Homo sapiens: one gene and its partner. The protein of the gene in region 1 binds, or shares a complex with, the protein of each later gene. Each region holds a gene or a part of one and is shown in the gene's direction. Other genes may lie near its edges.

What was found.
Region 2: PPP4R3B (region 1) and PPP4C share a complex: the UniProt entries of both Homo sapiens proteins name them as parts of the PP4 complex.

Annotation. Positions count from the first base shown.
Region 1 is NC_000002.12:55,613,486-55,624,507, reverse strand, and holds the start of PPP4R3B (serine/threonine-protein phosphatase 4 regulatory subunit 3B), read left to right. Parts: upstream 1-6,885; 5' UTR 6,886-7,222; coding exon 7,223-7,364; intron 7,365-9,001; coding exon 9,002-9,057; intron 9,058-11,022. UniProt on the Homo sapiens protein: Regulatory subunit of serine/threonine-protein phosphatase 4 (PP4). May regulate the activity of PPP4C at centrosomal microtubule organizing centers.
Region 2 is NC_000016.10:30,077,312-30,087,380, forward strand, and holds the end of PPP4C (serine/threonine-protein phosphatase 4 catalytic subunit), read left to right. Parts: intron 1-3,888; exon of another isoform or gene 3,889-3,947; coding exon 3,948-3,999; intron 4,000-5,172; coding exon 5,173-5,223; intron 5,224-5,434; coding exon 5,435-5,536; intron 5,537-6,082; coding exon 6,083-6,256; intron 6,257-6,343; coding exon 6,344-6,470; intron 6,471-7,354; coding exon 7,355-7,544; intron 7,545-7,621; coding exon 7,622-7,751; 3' UTR 7,752-8,065; downstream 8,066-10,069. Other genes in the region: T-box transcription factor TBX6, read right to left, coding at 8,914-9,127, 9,201-9,384, 9,467-9,540. UniProt on the Homo sapiens protein: Protein phosphatase that is involved in many processes such as microtubule organization at centrosomes, maturation of spliceosomal snRNPs, apoptosis, DNA repair, tumor necrosis factor (TNF)-alpha signaling, activation of c-Jun N-terminal kinase MAPK8, regulation of histone acetylation, DNA damage checkpoint signaling, NF-kappa-B activation and cell migration.

The DNA of each region.
Region 1 (11,022 bases):
TAAAAATACAAAAAATTAACCTGGCATGGTGGTACATGCCTGTAGTCCCAGCTAGTCAGTAGGCTGAGACAGGAGAATCGCTTGAACCTGGGAGGCAGAGGTTACAGTGAGCCAAGATCACACCACTGCACTCCAGCCTGGGCAACAGAGCAAGATTCCATCTCAAAAAAATAAAATAAAATGAAATAAAATAAAATAAAATAAATAAATTAAAAGAGCTAATTCTTTCCACAAAAAAATTAGAAAGGATCAGGGCAGAAAATTTTAGGGAAGGGTGAAAGCCTATATAAAGAACACCTACATTCCTGGGTCTATTCCCCAATCCCATATAACCAAAGGACTGCCACCCCACACACATACACACATACACACACACTCATACCCACACATGCCCCTATAACACCATCACCACATCCCAGGAGCCTGATTTATTTTCTAGAATGGGAGAGACTCTTGACTTGAGAATATTAGTCACAGTAGGTAGTAGGGGACTGTGAAGCAGGGCTAAAGTGAGCATTAAGTGAAAGCCTGAATGCCAAACAGTGGGACCTCTAGCCTCCTTCCTCTGCCTCCTTCTAGAATACCTTTACCCAGGAAAGATATGGGGGAATCCCTGAATAAACTATTACTGCCCCCTCTCTACTCCCTGCAAGAGACAAGACTTCTAAAAACTGATATTTGGTGAGTGGTTGGGGAGGGACTATGATTGAAAGAGAAAGATCACCCTGAAGAAGGCCAGAAGTCTATAGTTTTGCTCTTGAGAATAGAAAGCCAGATAGGGGCCAAACCATGAAGAGCTTTGAATGGCATCATAAAGAACTTTATCCTAAAAGAAATCAGGAACTTGAAAGATGTCAAGGGAATATAATATGGTCAGATTTATTCCATGAATCTTACTCAGTGGTGTGTCAAGAACTGACTGCCTGGAGATAGAAATTAGAGATCTCAGTCTGGGACTTTCAAATATGTAATATAAGTCTGATATGGTAGCTATTAAATTGCCTGCTAAAGGGAATGTCAAATTGAGTAGTAAACTTCTAAGGGAAGTTTCATTCTTTCAATAGTTATTGAGAACCTGCTATGTTTGACACCCTGTGCTAGACTAGAGATACAATGGTGAGAAAAAATGCAGTTCCCTGGACTAATAGAGGTTTTTCATCTGGATGAGAAGACAGTTATTAATCAGAAATCATACAAATAAATATAAAGCTACAAGTATGACAGGTGCTACAATGGAGGGGTGCATGGTGCTATAAGCGTGTAATAGGATATAATGGATTCTGATTGTATTCCTAGCATCGATTTTACCGATACCTCATAGAGTAACATTCATGGGATTTAGGTGGGATTAACGTAACTTCCAGTTCCAAGGATAGGCCTTGATTTGCCCTGGCCAATCAGTGCTTGACATTCTCTAGACCACAAAACTCTAGGTTTAGGGGCGGACATGTGACCTAAATTAATTTAATCACATTGAAACTGTGAAATATGTGAAAGAAACTCTCTTTTGATATGGACAAAGAACTACATAACCTTGGGAGATCCTGGCCACCATTTTATGATACAAAAGGAGTAAGCCTTAGGATGAATCTGACATCAGAAAGAAAATTGAGAGGTAGAAGGAAATCAAGTTCCTGCTGATACTGTTAAGTCACTCAAATCAACCTGAGGTTCACCTTATCTTCAGACTTCTCATTTATGTGAGCCAATAAATTCTCTTATCATTTAAACTAGTTTAAATTGGATTTTTTGGTAATTGTAACATTCCAAGGGGGATTTGTTCGAATGTGGCTTTTGTCAAAGAAAAAAAAAAAACCCAGGGGATTTGAAATAGGCAGTCCAAGAAGGCTCCTCCAAGGAAGTGATAATAGTGGCAACATTTAAAAGATAAAATGGGAGTTATTAGGAGATGATTGGTGAGGAAGAAAGCTCCAGACAAAGAGAATACCTGTGCAAAGACAGCAAGCAGGGGCATGAGTATGAAAAAAGAGTGTGCGGGTACTAAGATGCAGCTGGAGAGGTAGGCAGAAGCAGGATGAAAAGGGCTTTTTAAGTCATTGAAAGGATTCTGGCCACTGAAATATTTTTCATAACATATAGGGGTGGATAGGATACATCGTATAACGCACATGACAGCCCCTCACAACAAATTATCCAGCCCCAGATGTCAGTGGTGCTTAGGTTGAAAAACTTTGCTCTAGGAAATTAACCTACAAAGATATTGGCACACATAAAACAACTTTTGCACAATCATATGTTTGAAATTACGAACCATTGGAAATGACACAAATATACAATAAATGAGTTAAATAAATTAGGGTACATTTGTACAGTTGATGCAGGATTTTTCTTGGCCACTTTGACAGCTGGAGACCTCCGGCCAGCAACACCCCAACTACTCGGCCCACCAGGATGTGTCTGGCTTGTGCTCAGGCACGAATCCTGCAGCCACCATGGCCTCAGCCCCTGGCAGGAGGGGGTGTGTGAGTGAACGAGTACAGGGCAGGAGTGGGCTCTGTGCGGGGCTTGTGGCTGGACCAGGTGTGTCACATTGAGGGAAATGTGGTGGCACCCAAACAGGGGTGCTCATGACCCTGAAGCCCCAGAGGTGTTACAGTATGCTAAGCACTCTTTTAGTTCTGCCGTCTGCAGGCCAACGGACAGTGGCATGTTAACAGCTCTATCAGTCCCATTGCCCCACTCAGGCCCGTGGCTTCAGGACTGGCTCTGCCCCACTGCTGCTTCCCATCGCGTTGTGTGGGACGGTTGCCCTCCACCAGCAGAGGGCAAAGGGCCACAGTGTGTACAGCCTTCTTTGTATCTGCGTTTGGTGGGTCCCGAATTTTTCTTCAGCGTCCAAGAATGAGGTTACGCTGACAATCAAAGGGTGAGGAGGGTGGAGAAGAGTTTTATTTGAACTATGAAACAGCTCTCAGGAGAGAGAGGATGCAAGGGTGGTCCCTCACTCAAAGTCAGGTGGTCTCTCTCTCAGTGCGGCTGAGTCCACAGCTTTTATGGGCTCAGAATGAAGGCGTGCATGCTGATTGGTTTGTGAGTATGCAAAAAAGGCTAAAACAACAGCACCACTCAAAGGTAGGTACAACAGTGTAAAAAAACAATTAGGAAAGGATATGTGTAAAATAGGTGAAGGGTGGGGATCAATCAGAAGAAAGCACGCCAAATGGGAAGAGAGGTTCTCAATCTGGTCTGTGGATTTATCCTGGTCTTGTGGCTAGCCTTTAAACTGTCCTCAGCTTGAAGGGTTTCACCAGGGACCTGCCCCTGTCTGCCTAGGATTTGTCTGCCTTTTGCGGCTATCACAGTGGGATACTATGTAGCCATTAAGTAGAATGAGTTAGCTCTATATACACACTGACCCAAAAAAGGCTGTCCTGGGCACGGTGGCTCACCCCTGTAATCCCAGTATTTTGGGAGGCTGAGGCAGGTGGATCACATGAGGTCAAGAGTTTGAGACCAGCCTCACCAACATGGTGAAACCCCATCTCTACTAAAAATACAAAAATTAGCTGGGCGTGGTGGCGGACACCTATAATCCCAGCTACTCAGGAGGATGAGGCAGGAGAATCGTTAGAATCCGGGAGACGGAGGTTGCAGTGAGCCGAGATGACACCTCTGCACTCCAGCCTGGACTGTGTATGGAAAAAAAGAAAGAAAAAAAAAGTGGGGGACAGGGGTTCAGATATGGTGGCTCACACTTGTAATCCCAGCACTTTGGGAGGTCAAAGCAGGCAGATCCCTTAAGCTCAGGAGTGTGAGACCAGCCTGGGCACCAACATGTAGAGACCCTGTCTCCACAAAAAATAAAAAGGAAGGAAAAGAATAGTATTCCATTACAGTCATGTGTCCCTTAACAATGGGGATGCTTTCTGAAAAATGCATCATCAGGTGATTTTTTGTTGTGTGAACATCATAGAGTGTACCTAAACAAACCTAGATGGTAGCCTACTACAGAGGTCCCCAACCTTTTTGACACCAGGGACTGGTTTTGTGGAAGACAATTTTTCCATGGAAAGGGGGAGTTGGATTCTCATAAGGAGTGCACAGGTTAGATCCCTTGCATGTGCAGTTTACAATAGGGTTCTCACTCCTACCAGAATGTAATGCCCCTGCTCATCTGACAGGGGGCAGAGCTCAGGCCGAAATGCTGGCTCCCCTGCCACTCACCTTCTGCTGTGCCGCCCAGTTCCTAACAGGCCCTGGACCACTACTGGACCACTACATACATATCTACATATAATTACCTGTATATGCATAGAATATCTCTGGAATAGGACTAGATACATACTTTGTGGGCCCAGTGCAAAATAAAACCGCAGGGCCCTTGTCCAGAAACTTTCCTGAATTTCAAGTTAGTGACAGCAAAACATTAAACCAAGTGCCTATCTGTACAGGTCACCACCATGAAGCCAGCCCTGCTCTGGCAACATACACAGGAAAATGGAATAGAGGTGATTCCAAGAGGAAAATTCTATGAGTGGCAGGAGACAAAGACTAAAAGAAGACTTAGTTTTCACTATATATCTTTGCCTTTTTTTTTTTTTTTTTTTTTGAGACAGTCTGTCACACTGTCCCCCAGGCTGGAGTGCAGTGGTGCAATCTTGGCTCACTGCAACCTCTGCCTCCCAGGTTGAAGCGATTCTCCTACCTCGGCCTCCCAAGTAGCTGGGATTACAGGCCCCCACCACCACGCCCAGCTGATTTTTGTATTTTTAGCAGAGACAGGGTTTCACCACGTTGGCCTGGCTGGTCTGGATCTCCTGACCTCGGGCAATCTGCCCACCTCGCCCTCCCAAAGTGCTGGGATTACAGGCGTGAGCCACCATGCCCGGCCTCTCTTTTTAATTTCATATGTGTAAAGGCATTACTTATTCAAAACAACAAAAAAGGAAGATTGTGGGCTTATTTGGTTAGCAACTCTTTGAAGTGGAACTTTGATGACTGCCTGAAGCAAAGAACATCTGCTGGGGAAGATGTGGTTATGGGGGGCCCTCAGACTTGGATAAGCACTGAGCCCTGTGCTTTGGAGGGGTCTGAAATCCATGGAATCATGGGACTGTAGCCACCTGCAGCCCACTTTCCCTTTTCCAGACCATGCTGTGGGCACTCTAGTATTCCCTATCCCAAACGCCAAGCCTGACTCCAGGGTCTGCACAATCCTCTTCCCAAGTTCAGTCTTCCTGGGGAGTAACCAAAGGGTGAGGCTTGGACAGAAGGCTGGAGAGTCTAACATCAGGCTCAAAAATTGTGTGAAGCATTCTCTGACTCTTCCAAGACAGAAATGTTATTTTCTCTGAGGTCAAAATACATTTTGTCCACTTTCATCACATCAATTAATTGGCTCTATTGTTATGTATTATATTATGATGATTTTCTTCAAGTACATTTTCTGAGGTCTCTAGATTAAAAAAAAAAACTATGAATCCAGATTTTGAAATTATTTCTATCAGCATGTGTTCTGTACACTGACCCACGTTGTAGTGTACTGCTGAAGGGTGTCCACACTTAAGCGATCTGGTCAAAACATAAGCACGTTTTAACAAGACCATTGATTAGTTATGACTACAACTCCCAAGATGCACTGCAGGGTCAGTGTGCGCGTCTCGCCTAGTTTTCACCGATCAGGCTAATGAGCTGCACAGAAGTGGCAGCTGAACAAGCTGAGAGACTGTATTAAAGAACGAATATAGCGGGGATGGGGAGCAGGCGTCTACGGTCCCAGCTACTCGGGAGGCTGAGGTGAGAGGATCGCTTGAGCCCTCAAGGCGGAGGCTACAGTGAGTCGAGATAGCGCCATTGCACTCTAGCCTGGGAAGCAGAGAGAGACTATCAAAAACAACAAAACGAATAAAGGGATTCTACCAAGAGTGAGCTGGACTGAAATAAACGACACGCTACTACGACCCAGCGCGTGACTATATCCACCGCACAATGTGCGATAATAGCCTCAATGCAGAGAGAATTCCTCCTTTCCTTATTCAGTGCAAGAGAGCCCTATAGAGAACGCAGGAAATGCCCGCGAGAAACTGAGAAGTATCAAAACAATCACAGATATGTTAGGAAAGTAGCTCCCCGCCACTTCCCTAAACTTATCATAGCAGACTTACTTTCCAAGGTTACAAACACAAGAAGAGCACTGTATTTTCATGAAGCGGAAAATGTGCTTTACAATCGCCAGCTACTAAGAGCCTTAACGGTGAAGCGCTCTGCAAGAAACAGGAAATCGTCAACACACTTTCTGCATGAATTGCCTGGAGAGTTGTGTCCATAGACAATTCCTGGTTAGATGCTTAATTGTAGCAGACTCCATAACGGGGTTTAGCGGGTTTCCATTCGGCAGAAAGGGCTCCACGTTCTTTTTCACAGAAAGGTTTAAACTTATTTTTCCTCCTCAGGCGGACGAAGTGAGCGTCGTTCCGTGAAGGTATGAAACCCTTTTCCTTCCTTTCTGTCCCTGGTTACTCCGGTTCAAGGCTACGTACTTCCCCGGTTTGCTTTGTTTTTTCCTCAGAGCTAAGTTCCTAGGAACGTCACATACTGGTGCCATCCAACAACATGACGACGTGCGGAACCGAAGTCCCCTTCCACCTAGCGGCCTCTCGCGGCGCAGGCGTGGACGGGGAGATCGCGAGAACCTCCCGCCCAATTGCGACCCCGCGCCAAGAGGCGGGGCCGAAAGAGGAGGAAGTCGGGCCGAAAGAGGAGGAAGTCTCGCCGAAGTACTCCCGCCCCAGTCGGTACCCCTCCTCGCGAGAGCGCCGAGCATTCCGGCCTGGGAAGCGCGTGCAGAAGCGGAGGTGCTGCTCATGGGACTTGTCGGCCGCCGTAGCCCCTGCTAGGACAGCCCGTGCGAGCCTGCTGGAGGAGGAAGAGAAAGGCAGAGAGAGTCGGGTTACAAGATGGCGGATCTGTAGTAGTTACCGCGGCGGCGGGAGAGCAAGCGAGCCCTGGGGGGCAAAGAGACGGGAGAGTGGGTGTATGCGCGGGTGAAGTGAGAGGTAACGGGGCCTCCGGGCGGAGAGGCCTCAGTGGCTCTTGTCACCCCTTCTCGCGGCTGAACCTTTGGAGCCATGGTGAATTCGGGCCTCTCCGAAGCCGCCGCCGCCGCCACCGCCACTACTGCCTTTACCGTCTCCTAAGAGTGAGGAGCGCGGACGAGGTAAGCGAGGAGGCGGCGGCTAGAGCGGTGGAGACAGCAGCCACCATGTCGGATACGCGGCGGCGAGTGAAGGTCTATACCCTGAACGAAGACCGGCAATGGGACGACCGAGGCACCGGGCACGTCTCCTCCACTTACGTGGAGGAGCTCAAGGGGATGTCGCTGCTGGTTCGGGCAGAGTCCGACGGTAAGGTTATCGGAACTGTAGAATAGGGGATAGTGCCTCTGGTTGGGGCACAGCTTGGGTTTAGGGCCCTGGGCCCGTTACCGTTGCTACTCCTTCGGGACAGCGCGTTGGTTCTGAACTGGCTCTTGTGTACGGCAAAAACAAAGTACTGTACTTTTGACTGGACTTATCCTCGGAGACCGAGACTCTCTGTCCTTCTCCCATCTCTCTTAAGGATTGGACTCCTTCCTTTCCAGTCCCTCCTCTTTTGAAGAGGGGAGAGTGTGAGAGAGAAGGGAGGAAGTAGTGAGAGACTAGGTACTGATGTCGCCCTAGGAGCTGACACCTTCCTCCCCCTTTATTTACTTATCCATTATACGTCTAGTACAAACGGTTTAGGGAAACTTTTCTTTCCGAGTGTTTTTAAAAAAAAAAAATTGTACCAACGGGCCCCAGGTGCCACAGTCGACAGGTGCTGGGGAAAACCGAAAGGCACGTTTTCCTGGCTGTATTGCTGACTGTTGCCACGATACATGGACACACAAGCACATACATCTGTAGTCTGCATTTCTTCGGGCTGCCTTTGTAGAAGGCGCTATGAGAAAGTGAATGCCTTACAATCTAAGCAAGTTGGGACACCAAAGCAGGTTGTAAACTGCTGTGTTCTTTGGTTTATTGTAGTCATGTGAAGTATTTTAAATTACAAAATGTAGAGCCGTAATTAAAATGCCTTTTATAGTATAATCTGGACTTGATTTGAACAACTGATATAGGCAGTTAGAAAAATAATCTTAGGTTTAGTCTTGACATATTTTGTATTCTTGCTTGTTCCCTTTTATTTTAAATAGTCATCACTTCTACAGAAGGTGTTCTTTTGTTCTTAATGAGGAAAGGATAAATGCAGCACTGTAATTTCTATACTAAGTATTTAATCCCTGTCATGATGTTTTTGTTTTGTAATTTGCATTATTTGTTAAACTGGGAATGCAATAAAACAACTTTTGTTAAAACGAATGGCTTGAAGTGGTCATTTAGACCTTAAAATTTTTATTTCAATAAAATTTTAATAGTCATCTAGTCTCCTCATTCCTTGGTTTGATTGTTGGTTTTAGATTAATTTTTCCTTTAAGGGTGTATGGGAATAGGGTGAAATATTTTAGATTAAATGTGAAGCCTAGATTTGGAGAGAAAATGTGAATTCGAATACATTTTATTAAGATGTCCAACTCGGTAAAAAGACTTGAAAAGTTTGCGGGGGCGGGGGGCGGGGTTTAAATGTGTATTTTTTTTTTTTTTTTTTTTTTTTTGGAGACAGAGTCTTGCTCTGTTGCCAGGCTGGAGTTCAATGGCGCGATCTGGGCTACTGCAACCTCTGCCTCCTCTCCCTCTCTCTCAAGCGATTCTCCTGCCCCACCCTCCCGTGTACCTGGGACTACAGGCATGCGCCACCACGCCCAGCTAATTTTTGTATTTTTAGTAGAGACGGTTTCACCATGTTGGCTGGAATGGTCTGGATCTCTTGACCTCGTGATCTGCCCGCCTCCCAAAGTGCTAGGATTACAGACGTGAGCCACTGCGCCCGGCTTTAATGTGTATTCTAATTTTTATTCAGGGTTTTATCATTTGAGACTTATGATGTATTATTTTTTATCTTTCAGGATCACTACTCTTGGAATCAAAGATAAATCCAAATACTGCATATCAGAAACAACAGGCAAGTAGTTGTTTATCTTTAATTTGAAAGACTTCATCTGTGATCAAGGAAGTATTAATCTGACAAAGGTGGGAAAGCTTTCCTGACAAGAAAAAAACATGTTTGGTAAACAAAGATCATGTGTATTTCTCTTGCAGGTTAAAAGTTTCAGACTGAAAAAAAGTTTTTGTACTGGTGATAATTATCATTTTTGGATTGAGCCACTGTCGGTTTATTCTAAGATGTATTTATTAGTATTATTTAACTGTAGTTAGCCAAGTCTCTTCTATACCTTGTACATGAAACCTTTTATTCTGAGTCACGTTTAAAGGAAATGACATAGAACAAAATTCAAAGGGATACTCTTAAAGCAAGGAAAGCCTGTTTGTGGTGTGAAATTAAATCCTTTGACTCAAGTAAAGGTAGAGGTTTTGAAGTAGAAGCATTAAATCCTGCTCTTTAATTGTTGTGTATTTTTAATATAGTAATCAATGGATACTTTATAAAAATGTACATTACCAAGTATGTAACATCTTCTGTTAATATTGTCTTATTTGGGAAAGAAAATGTGTATTGTATTTTAGCACGCCTGATTAATCTGAAAATGGTAGCAGTGATTCAATCTTTTTTATTCTGTGAATGTTTTTGTTTTTATTATGAAATATATTAAAATTGAAAAGTACAGAGAATAATCGGTGTCTACTGTAACACCACCAGATTTAACAATGTTAATGTTACGCCATATTTGTTTCAAATATTTTTGTAATATTGAACATTATGGATAGAGTTAAAGCTTGTTTGTATCCATCCCGTTGTTTACATTCTCCATCCCCTACATAGGTAACCACTATTCTGAAGTTGATGTGTATTCTTTGTGTACATGCTTTTATACCTTTTCTGCATATGTATGTATCCATAAATAATATGTAGTCTGTTGTGTGTTTTTAAACTTTACACAGTGGATGTCATACTCTTACATGTATTCTGCAGCTTGCATTTTTCACACATTCATTTTGAATATTCGTTCATGTTAACAATGTAGATCTAGTTTTCTTTTTAAACTCTGTATAGTATTCTTATGTATGACATACACTTGTTGTTATACATTTGAATTATTTCCAGGTATTCTTTTTTGTGTGTGGTATGTAAAGTCACGATGGCAGAGATTTTTGAAGGAAGATAAATTATTTTAGGATTACATTTACAGCGTCAGTGCCCACTTCAAGGTTTATGAAAATTTGGATGCCCAGAAACAAGTACTTCGTAGTTGGAGGAATAAAATTCTGTCTGTTGTGCAGCTTATTATTACAAAGTCTTACTGTTAGAACAATTATGTATATAACACATTCTTAATCAGTTATTTGAAATACTTTAAAATTTTCAATATTCAATTCATAGCTTTTTTCTCTGTTTAGAAAATATTGTGTGTCTTTTTTGATGGAGAAGCAAATTAAACATTTGTCCTGAATTGAAAACCTGAAGATGTTTCCTATACCTTAGACATTGTAAGGTAGACATTTAAGTAAATTTAATTTCTCAGTCAGCCAGGCAGCTCTTAATCTCTGTCTTTATACCGAGTTTTTACCAGATGATCACTTTTAGTTTGTTTTTGTTTGCTTGCTTCTTTGTGGGGAAAGAAATACTAATTTTTTTTTTTTTTTTACCATATTTCCCTTATCTGCATGAATATAATTATCAGGAACTTTGTTCTTAAATGTAACTAAGTCATAAACAGTTCCCTACAAATTTAGGTTTAATAATGGATTCTTCTCAGATTGTATATAAGATCTTTTAGCTGTTGTTACTTTGGAAACATCACATTATGGAGTAGGTTTGTATTTAAAATAGTCACCCAACATAAGTTAAAAATACATAGTGATTCTGTGAATACTTTAGAATCATTAGGATATGTAGGTAATTTCATGTATAATGTTGCTCTACTAGAAAATTAGTTCTAGATAATTAGCATTTTTGTATACACTTAGT
Region 2 (10,069 bases), on another chromosome or scaffold:
AGGTTAGCACAGTGTTTTGGTACAGCATACGTGCTTGATAATCACCAGGTATTCTATTTCTTTTGGAAGAGGGCAATAATGAGATGGGCTAAAGCCATCAGGGAGGGCTTTTGAGTGGAGGTAGGCCTTGAAGGATGAAGATAATTTGGCTAGCTGATGGAGGCAGGGCCAGTGAGGGAAGGGCATTCCAAGCAGGACGAATGTAACAGTGGAGGCCCTGAGATGCGTGGGGAACAGTCAGGGGTTTAATTACCTGCCTCCTCTGGGGAACTGTGTGATTGTGGCTTCTACCAGGCTGGAGAATTGTGGCAGAAGAGCCCACAGAATTACCCTACGTTTATTGAACAGTAAACATTGGCCTTTACAGGGCCACTATTTGGCCTGGCCCGGTACTGGCAAAAAACTTCTATCCATCTCTTCCCCCCAGCAATCCTATGAGGTTGGAATCATTTGCTGCATTTTATCGAATAGGAAGCCATGACTCGTAGAGGTCTGGTGACTTAACTGAGGTCACCCACTGAGGACGTGGCAGAGCTGGGTCCTGAATCTGTGGCCCTCAGGCTCTTTGCCTGGCCCTGCCTCACATAGACTACCTGCAGCCAGACAGGGCCTGTGAGGGGATGATGAGCAGGGTCGGCCTCTTTTTCGCCACCTGTCTGTGGCTTTTCTCTTTTGCCAGCTGACCAGACCAGCCCCATGGTGTTTTTAGTTGTCCCCTTTCCCTCAGTCCTGATTGGCATTTTTAGGAACTTAAACCTGTTGTTGCCTGGCACTATTCTTTAACCTCGAAGTATTGTCTCCCTCACGGGCCCTGGATCAGTGTGGTGGTGATGGTAGACAAAGCTTAGATAGCATGCTGGAGTTTGCAGAATAGCAGGAAGTCGTATATTCAGTCTCCATGGCTCCTTGCAACAGCCTAAGGAATACGCAGGGTGGGCTGAGTACTTAGCCCCATTTCATAGCAGAGGAAACTGAGCCTTTGAGTAGATAATGTCTTGCCCAACATCACGCAGCTAGTCGGAGGGGAAGTTAGTTTTGCATCCAGGTCTTTGACTGTGCTCCGTGGTCACTGAGAGCCAGGCAGAGGCATTTAGATTTTGATGTGGGGTGTGAGGCAGCAGGAAGCCATGGAAGGCTGAGGGGTGGAGGGTCCTGCCCAGTTGAAACTGAGTGGAACTAGGAGGTACTAGGCCAAGGCCTGAGTTGGCCGCTGTTGTCCCAGGCTCAGTCTGAAGCAGGGCCATCTCTGATACCTGGTTATGGCCTCCTGGGGACCCATCAGAGACCCAGGCTGAGGCTGGTGGTGTCAAGAGCACCAGCTTGCCTAGAGGGCACAGACATGCAGATGAAACCAGTGGAAGCACAGAGGTCCGCAGTGTCTGAGCTGAAATTGCTGCTACTAGAAATATTAGCACAGTAGGAGAGCTGAGCTTTTGAATCAGGTGGTCTTCAGTATGAATCTTTGCCTTGTCACCTAGAAGCAATATGACCCTCGTCAAGTCACTTTCTGATTTTTTGAAGTGATAATGACATGCAGTTGAGAGTCCGGGTATCCGGGCACAGGGCCTGCTGCGCTGGTAGCCGTTACTGCAGGCAGGTCCTGATAGGGCTGGGGAAGTGCTGCAAGTGGCAGAACTGGGGCTGGAATCTGGGCCTGATTCCCAGGCCACACTGGGGTTGCGCTGGCACTGAGGGGGGCTTTGCAGAGAGCACGGGCCCTGCATGTGACCTCCCTGGGCTTCAGGTTTTCACTCAGGGTCTGTGGAAGGGGCTGGCATAAATTCTCAGGAAATTGGGCTTCTGGGTTCCAATTTAGCCACTCTCCAGCTTGGTGACCTTGACCCTCCCGCTTTTCTGTAAGCTTTGGTTTCTTTTTTTCTTTTTTTTTTTTTTTGAGACAGAGTTTTGCTGTTGTTGCCCAGGCTGGAGTGCCAGTGGCCTGATCTTGGCTCACTGCAACCTCCACCTCCTAGGTTCAAGTGATTCTCCTACCTCAGCCTCCCAAGTAGCTGGGATTACAGGCACGCGCCACCATGCCCAGCTAATTTTTGTATATTTACTAGAGACGGGGTTTCACCATGTTGGCCAGGATGGTCTCAATCTCTTGACCTCATGATCTGCCTGCCTTGGCTTCCCAAAGTGCTGGGATTACAGGCATGAGCCACCGCGCCCGGCCTAGCTTCGGTTTCTTTACTGTTACGTGAGGCTGAAGAGAACCTCCCCAGTCTGTTGGAAAGGTCACTATGAGCAGTTGATGGGGAAGGATGTTCAGCACAAGAAGCAGTGCAGGTGGGAGAGTCCGGGTACTGATGTGGCCTCTTGGACCACCGCCAGTGCTGCCTTCTGTTCCCAGAAAGCCAGGGCAGACCTCCTTCGTGCTGCCTCTGCCATACAGAGCAAGGGGCATAAGTGAATCCTCCTGTCCACTGAGCTCAGGAAACTCATTCTAAGGGAAGAGATTGGCAGAAAGAGGGGGGCCAGGCGAGTTGGGCCTCCCACATCAGAATATCTTGATAAAGAGTCAGACCCCAGAGCCAGGCTTCCCTGGTTCATATCCCACCTGTGTCACTGGCACCAAGCCAGCCTCCTTCCCTGCTTCAATTTCTTCATCTGTGTACCGGGAATCATCATAGTACCTGCCTGCCAAGCTCTTAATAACATTTGTGGCACACAGTATGAGCTCGAATGTTCACTGCTGCTATTACCAGGCAAAATTTGGAAATACAGTGTTGCTTAAATTGGGTATCTATAGGCTGGGTGCAGTGGCTCACATCTGTAATCCCAGCACTTTGGGAGGCAAAGGTGGGTAGATCACTTGAGGTCAGGAGTTCGAGACCAGCCTGGGCAACATAGTGAAATCTCGACTCTACTAAAAATACAAAAATTAGCTGGGCGTGGTGGTACATGCTTCTAATCCCAGCTACTCGGGAGGTTGAGGCAGGAGAATCACTTGACCCAGGAAGCAGAGGTTTGCAGTGAGCAAAGATGGCGCCACTGCACTCCAGACTGGGCAATGGAGCCAGACTCTGTCTCAAAAAAAAAAAAAAAAAAAAAAAATTGGGTGTCTTACCTGGCAAAGTGATTTCATCTCCTGCTCACTCAAGTAGAAGTAGACTGCACTGCAAGGAGAAATAAAAAATATTTAAGTCCTCATAGTCATAAAGAAATACTGAACACATGGCAAGAGCACCTCACTTTTTTTTTTTTTTTTTTGAGATGAAGTCTTGCTCTGTCGCCCAGGCTGGAGTGCAGTGGCGCGATCTTAGCTCACTGCAGCCCCCACCTCCCAGGTTCAAGCGATTCTCCTGCCTCAGCCTCCCAAGTAGCTGGGATTACAGGCACGCGCCACCACGCCTGGCTAATTTTTGTATATTTAGTAGAGACAGGGTTTCACCATGTTAGTCAGGCTGGTCTCAAACTCCTGACCTCGTGATCTGCCCACCCTGGCATCCCAAAGTGCTGGGATTACAGGCATGAGCCACCGCACCTGGCCAAGAGCGCATCACTTTGAAGGCGCATCCACTGTGGGCCTGCCCTGGGCACCTACCCTTGTGTCTGGATAGCCTGGGAGAAGGGCTCTGTGATTGGCCAAGGGTGACTTAAGCTCTGCTGTGGAGAGGATGGGGAGACCCGCCTCCCAGGAGTGAGTCCTGGATGCGGAAGAGGGAGCGGCAGGGGGAGTCAGGGCTGGAAAAGTCCCAGCCTGCTCAGAAGGCCTGGAACGCTGGGATAAGAGGTTGGACTTTGTCCTTTTGGCAGCAGGGGGCCACGGAAGGGTGTTGCATGCTGAAGGGCCGTGGTCAGCCTGTTTTGGGGAGACTGTACGCTTCACTCCTGCCCCCTGGAGCTTCCAGGACTGCCTCATATCCTCCCCTCCCCCCAAAAAAGGTCAGGAATTGGGCTGGGCTGGCCTGGCTGTGGTGACCCTGGTCTTCTCCTGTCTCCAGAGAGATCTTGGTAGAGGAGAGCAACGTGCAGAGGGTGGACTCGCCAGTCACAGTGAGTACCTGCTGTCCCTGCAGAGCCAGGCCTGGTCTTTCAGGCACATGAAGTTTCCTCTTCATCTTGGGGGCTCTATAAGCCCAACCCTAAGCTCTTTTATCTGTCCTTTCCCTCACCTTCAACGGAGCACTGCTAAAAGAAGTGGGGGTTGCTGTGCACGTTGGCTCACACCTGTGATCCCAGCATTTTGGGAGGGCAAGGTGGGCACATCACTTGAGGTTAGGAGTTCGAGACCAGCCTGGCCAACATGGTGAAACCGTTTCTACTAAAAATACAAAAATTAGCCACGCGTGGTGGCACGTGCCTGTAATCCCAGCTACTTGGGAGGCTGAGGCAGGAGAATCGCTTGAACCCCAGAGTTGGAGATTGCAGTGAGCTGAGATCAGGCCACTGCACTCCAGCCTGGGTGACAGAGGGAGACTCCGTCTCAAAAAAAAACAAAAAAAAACAAAAAAAACAGGCCGGGCGCGGCGGCTCACGCCTGTAATCCCAGCACTTTGGGAGGCCGAGGCAGGTGGATCATGAGGTCAGGAGATCGAGACCATCCTGGCTAACATGGTGAAACCCCATCTCTACTAAAAATACAAAAAAATTAGCCAGGTGTGGTGGTGGACACCTGTAGTCCCAGCTACTCGGGAGGCTGAGGCAGGAGAATGACGTGAACCCAGGAGGCGGAGCTTGCAGTGAGCCGAGATCGCGCCACCGCACTCCAGGCTAGGCGACAGAGTGAGACTCCGTCTAAAAAAAAAAAAAAGAAAGGAAAGAAAAGAAAGGGGTTATGGGAAGGGACTTTGGATTTGTTAGTGGAGATTCTTGGCCAGGGCAGAAGGACTCCTATTTGGCGAGTGATTCTGCTCACATATCTCCAGGGCTCTGTGTTAGTAACTTGATTCTGGGTACTTTGTGGGGAGTAGAGAGAGGAAGGGGCCGGGACATCTACCTGGAAGGACTTAGTTCTAGCTCTTGCCTACAGAATAGTTGGTACTCAGCATAGGACAGTGGGTATGGTTCCAGACCAGACTGACTTGGGGTGGGAGAGGAGAATTTTGGTCCTAGGAAGTAGAAGTGCAGCCAAGAGTGATAAAGCTCACTAAAGCAGCGGGTGTTTGGAGGGTAGTCCCTGGCAACTCCCACTGCTTGAGTTCCAACCCCACTCTTCCTGTTCCCCAGGTGTGCGGCGACATCCATGGACAATTCTATGACCTCAAAGAGCTGTTCAGAGTAAGAGTGTGGCCAACACTGTGAAATGTAACGGGGGGATGACTGGAAGACCCCTGTAATTGAGGGTGGGAGCCTTAATTTGGGGCGTGGAGTGGGGGCAAGGGGCCCCAAGTTAGATGGGTGGTTGTGGAAGAAGGGCCTCCGCTGGACAGAAACAGGTAGGGGGTAGGGGACTGTTTACGACAGGGCAAAACTTTCTACTTCCCCACAGGTAGGTGGCGACGTCCCTGAGACCAACTACCTCTTCATGGGGGACTTTGTGGACCGTGGCTTCTATAGCGTCGAAACGTTCCTCCTGCTGCTGGCACTTAAGGTGGCAGTCCCCGGCTTCTGCACCCCCAACCTGGGCGACCTCGGGCCGGGCCTGTCTTAGTCCGTTCCGCCCTCATCTCCTATCGTGACCAGCCCCACCTTGGAGCTGTGTCACTGGTGATGGACCGATTCTGCTTTTGGGGGTGGTCAGAGACTTGATGGGGGTTGAGGCCAGCGGGGCAGCATTCTGGGAGGGGCAGAGGCTCACTGTTGCGAATGTGGCAGGTCATTGATGCCACTGGTGGGAGAGGCAGTGTGGGGCCAGATGACAAAGGGCCTGGGTGCCTTGCTAGGGACCCGGTCTGTGTCTGGTAGGTGAAAGAAGAGCCATTAGGTTCATAGTTGAGGGAATGGGTCAGCTTTACATTCTCTGGAGGGGTCGTGTGGGCCTGGGAGGTGGCTGATGCCACACGATTCAGGCAAGAGGTGCCAGGAGTGTGCTGGGCAGTGGTTGTGAGGATGGCAGGCTGGCGGGCACGAGGAGGTCAGAGAGGGATGTGTGGAGAGACCGTCTAGGCGCCAGCCCTGGCTTGGTGGCCACCCCCAGGTTCGCTATCCTGATCGCATCACACTGATCCGGGGCAACCATGAGAGTCGCCAGATCACGCAGGTCTATGGCTTCTACGATGAGTGCCTGCGCAAGTACGGCTCGGTGACTGTGTGGCGCTACTGCACTGAGATCTTTGACTACCTCAGCCTGTCAGCCATCATCGATGGCAAGGTAAGCCAGCCCAGGGCTCCATGGGACAGGGAGAGGAGGGGGGCTTCAGGCCTCAGCCCCGTCCTCTTTCCCTGCTCTCCCCTGTAGATCTTCTGCGTGCACGGGGGCCTCTCCCCCTCCATCCAGACCCTGGATCAGATTCGGACAATCGACCGAAAGCAAGAGGTGCCTCATGATGGGCCCATGTGTGACCTCCTCTGGTCTGACCCAGAAGGTGAGGGCATGTGGGCAGGGGCAGGCAGGGACAGCCAGGAGGGGTTGGGAAAGAGAGGGAGCAGGGCTGGTCTTCACTGTCACTCGTCCTCCACCTGCCAAATGGCTGGAACCCTGGAGGAGGAGCAGGGAGGCCTGCATGGCAGGTGCTTTGAGCACACAGTGGCTTGGGGCATGGCCCAGAGGGCTGTGGAGGACAACCAAGTCATGGCTCCCTGAAGTGAAGGGGCCTTAGAACATGACAGCAGCTTCTTCAGAGGTCAGAACCCCAGAATGGTAGCCCCCTGAGACCCCTCATTTTGTGGGTTTTCCACTAGTGTAGAGCAGAGCTGAGATTTAAAGTCAGGTCTTCTGAGGACCAGCCAGAGTTCCTGTTGTCACAGGCACACACGCACAGGCAGCCTCTGCTCCAGCGCAGACACACACACACATACACATAGCCTCTGCTCCATCACAGCCACACACACGCACACGAGGCCTCTGCTCCATCACAGCCACACACATACAGACACACACATGCAGACACACACATGCAGCCGCTGCTCCACAGTCACTCCGGACCTCCCTGTGACAACACAGGGTGCCCTTCTGTCTCTGGGAGTGCCCCTTTCACTCTTATGTGCTGTTTGGACGGGGATTGTATGATCACTGTGATTATGAGGGGGCCCCAGGCATTGGGCGTTCTTTCTCCTCTGGAGCTTATCTGCCCCTACATTTGCTGTCCTGGTCCCCGCCATCCCACAGACCATATTCAGGCCCCATGCTCTGGTCCCACGGGCCTCTGGTGGACTTGGGGAGGGGCCAGGCTGCTCACCCTCAAGGGGCAGCGCTGGCAGCCAGAGAAGCCTGAGGACATCCCTCTCCATCCCTCCCTTTCCGCATCAGACACCACAGGCTGGGGCGTGAGCCCCCGAGGAGCCGGCTACCTATTTGGCAGTGACGTGGTGGCCCAGTTCAACGCAGCCAATGACATTGACATGATCTGCCGTGCCCACCAACTGGTGATGGAAGGTTACAAGTGGCACTTCAATGAGACGGTGCTCACTGTGTGGTCGGCACCCAACTACTGCTACCGGTGAGCCGGCTGGGCCGGGCTGGGATGGGCGGGCATCTGAGCCGAGCTGCTCCTGACCCTGCTGCCCCGCCTTCCAGCTGTGGGAATGTGGCAGCCATCTTGGAGCTGGACGAGCATCTCCAGAAAGATTTCATCATCTTTGAGGCTGCTCCCCAAGAGACACGGGGCATCCCCTCCAAGAAGCCCGTGGCCGACTACTTCCTGTGACCCCGCCCGGCCCCTGCCCCCTCCAACCCTTCTGGCCCTCGCACCACTGTGACTCTGCCATCTTCCTCAGACGGAGGCTGGGCGTGGGGGGGGCTGTCCTGGCTCTGCTGTCCCCCAAGAGGGTGCTTCGAGGGTGAGGACTTCTCTGGAGAGGCCTGGAGACCTAGCTCCATGTTCCTCCTCCTCTCTCCCCACTTGAACCATGAAGTTTCCAATAATTTTTTTTTCTTTTTTTCCTTCTTTTTTCTGTTTGTTTTTAGATAAAAATTTTGAGAAAAAAAATGAAAAAATTCTAATAAAAGAAGAAAAATGGTTTTTGGGTTTGTGCCAGACTTGGTTGGGAATGCACAGGGTTGCTGGCCTGGGACCTGGGGTGGACGTCAGGGCCTTGACTGCCTCAGGGCCCCGACCTGCCAAGAGGGCCAGGCTCAGGCCAGTCAGCTTGCCCAGGGCCTCCAGGGGCCGCTGCCTGCTGGCTTCCCCAGCCCTAGGGAGAGGGCTCTGTTCTCATGGGCAGCCTTATCTTATTAACAGCATACACACACAGGCACACACAGAATCACAGGATTCTGATTTCTCCATTTTCCTGAAGAGGAGATGGGCCTAGAGGGCCAGTGGATTTTGTGCTAGGTCAGGCAGCTGGAAACACAGGTCTAGATCTGGGCCTGGGTCTCCTAGCAAAGCCTTTGCTCACCCAGCCCCGCCCAGGGCCAAACACAGGAGCCCAATGTTTCCTGAGCATGGATGGCTTTTGAGTTTTATTAACAAAAATACTCTGGTCCCAGAACAACAGACTGGTGTGGCCTGCACCAGTGTGTGTGGGGGGGTGGGGATTGAGCCCCTCCAGAGCCCATGGGGAGGCCTGGTAAGTGGGGATGCTGGTCTGTGGCCCCATTTGGCCAGGCAGAGCCCCTTCCATTCACACGGAGGTGAGAGCCGGGAAGGGGAAGCCGGCCCCAGCTGGACTCCCAGCAGCCTTGGTTAGGCTTTGAAGCCAGAGGGGGGTGGGAGTGAAATCAAGGTGTGAAGTTGAGGGGGTGGGTGGGCAGGCCCAAGGCGGCCATTTGGTGTGGGGGATGGGGCCGGTGGAGGTGAGGGGGCTCCAGGGCTGGGGGAAGGGAGCGGGAGGTTTGTGATGGAGGCAGAGGGGCCCAGCAGTGGTTCAGTACATGGGTTTGGAGCCCACATCCAGATAGCCCCCAGGCGCGGTGTATGGTAGAGGGAAGGGGCCCCCTTGGAGAAAGTGCGGGGCAAAGGGTACCGCCGGTGGAGCCGCTGGGTACCCGGAGCCCCCTGACCCGTGCGGCAGCTCCAGAAATGCAGCCGAGTAGGGGGCTGAGCGCCCGGAGTCTGGAGCCTCCGGGAAGCTGGGGCTCCTGACATGGAGAGAGGGATGTCAGAGCAGGGCAGAGGGACCCGCAGCCCCGCCTGGTCCCCTGTCCCACTCACCTGGTGGGAAGGTGACTGGGGGCCCCATGGAAAGCCGCAGGGTGCAGGAGGTAGGCCTCAGCACTGGGGCCACCACACAGAGGTGCCGGGGCAGCGGTGGCTTCCCCGGGGGCTGGGGCCTGTTCTGGATCTGATTCACGAATGTCTCCACCCAGGGTGGAGTCGCAGGGACCACCTGGTGTGTCTGGGGAGAGGGAAGGGAGAGGTTGGGCTAGGGAGGATCCCTGTCTCAGGCCTGGCCCCATCGCCATCGGGACTACACTCACCTCCGCTCCCATAGGCCTCTGTGGCTGCTGGCTCTGGGCCCCGCAGTTTCCTCTTCACACGGGCGTCTCGCTCCCTGGGGAACAGTGGTGGTGATGATGATGATGATGGTGATGGCCATGGTGATGGTAACAGTACTTACCCGGTGCCAGGCATTTCACCCTCCCAGGGACCCTGTCAGGTAGGGGCCATCATTATACCCATTTTATAGATGAAGAAACTGAAGGCCAGAAAATTAAATAACTAGAAAGTGGCAGAGCTGGAATTTTGTCCCTGCTCAAATTTGTCCATGCTTTCCTATTGTGTTTAGTATCAGTGGAAACTCCTTCCCAGTGGCAAGGCCAGGGCACAGTCTCACCTAGCTCATCTTTCTGCCCCATCTCCACTCTCAGCCTCTCTCTGGAATCCTCTTCTGTCCCCTCTTCACGGGCTGAACCTGTCCTTTTTCTTTTCATTTTTAAAATTTGAGATGGGGTCTTGCTATGTTGCCCAGGCTGGAGTGCAGTGGCACAGTCACAGGTCACAGCTCACTGCAGCCTCCAACTCCTGGGCTCAAGTGATCTTTCCATCTCAGCCTCCGAAAGTGCTGGGACTACAGGCATGAG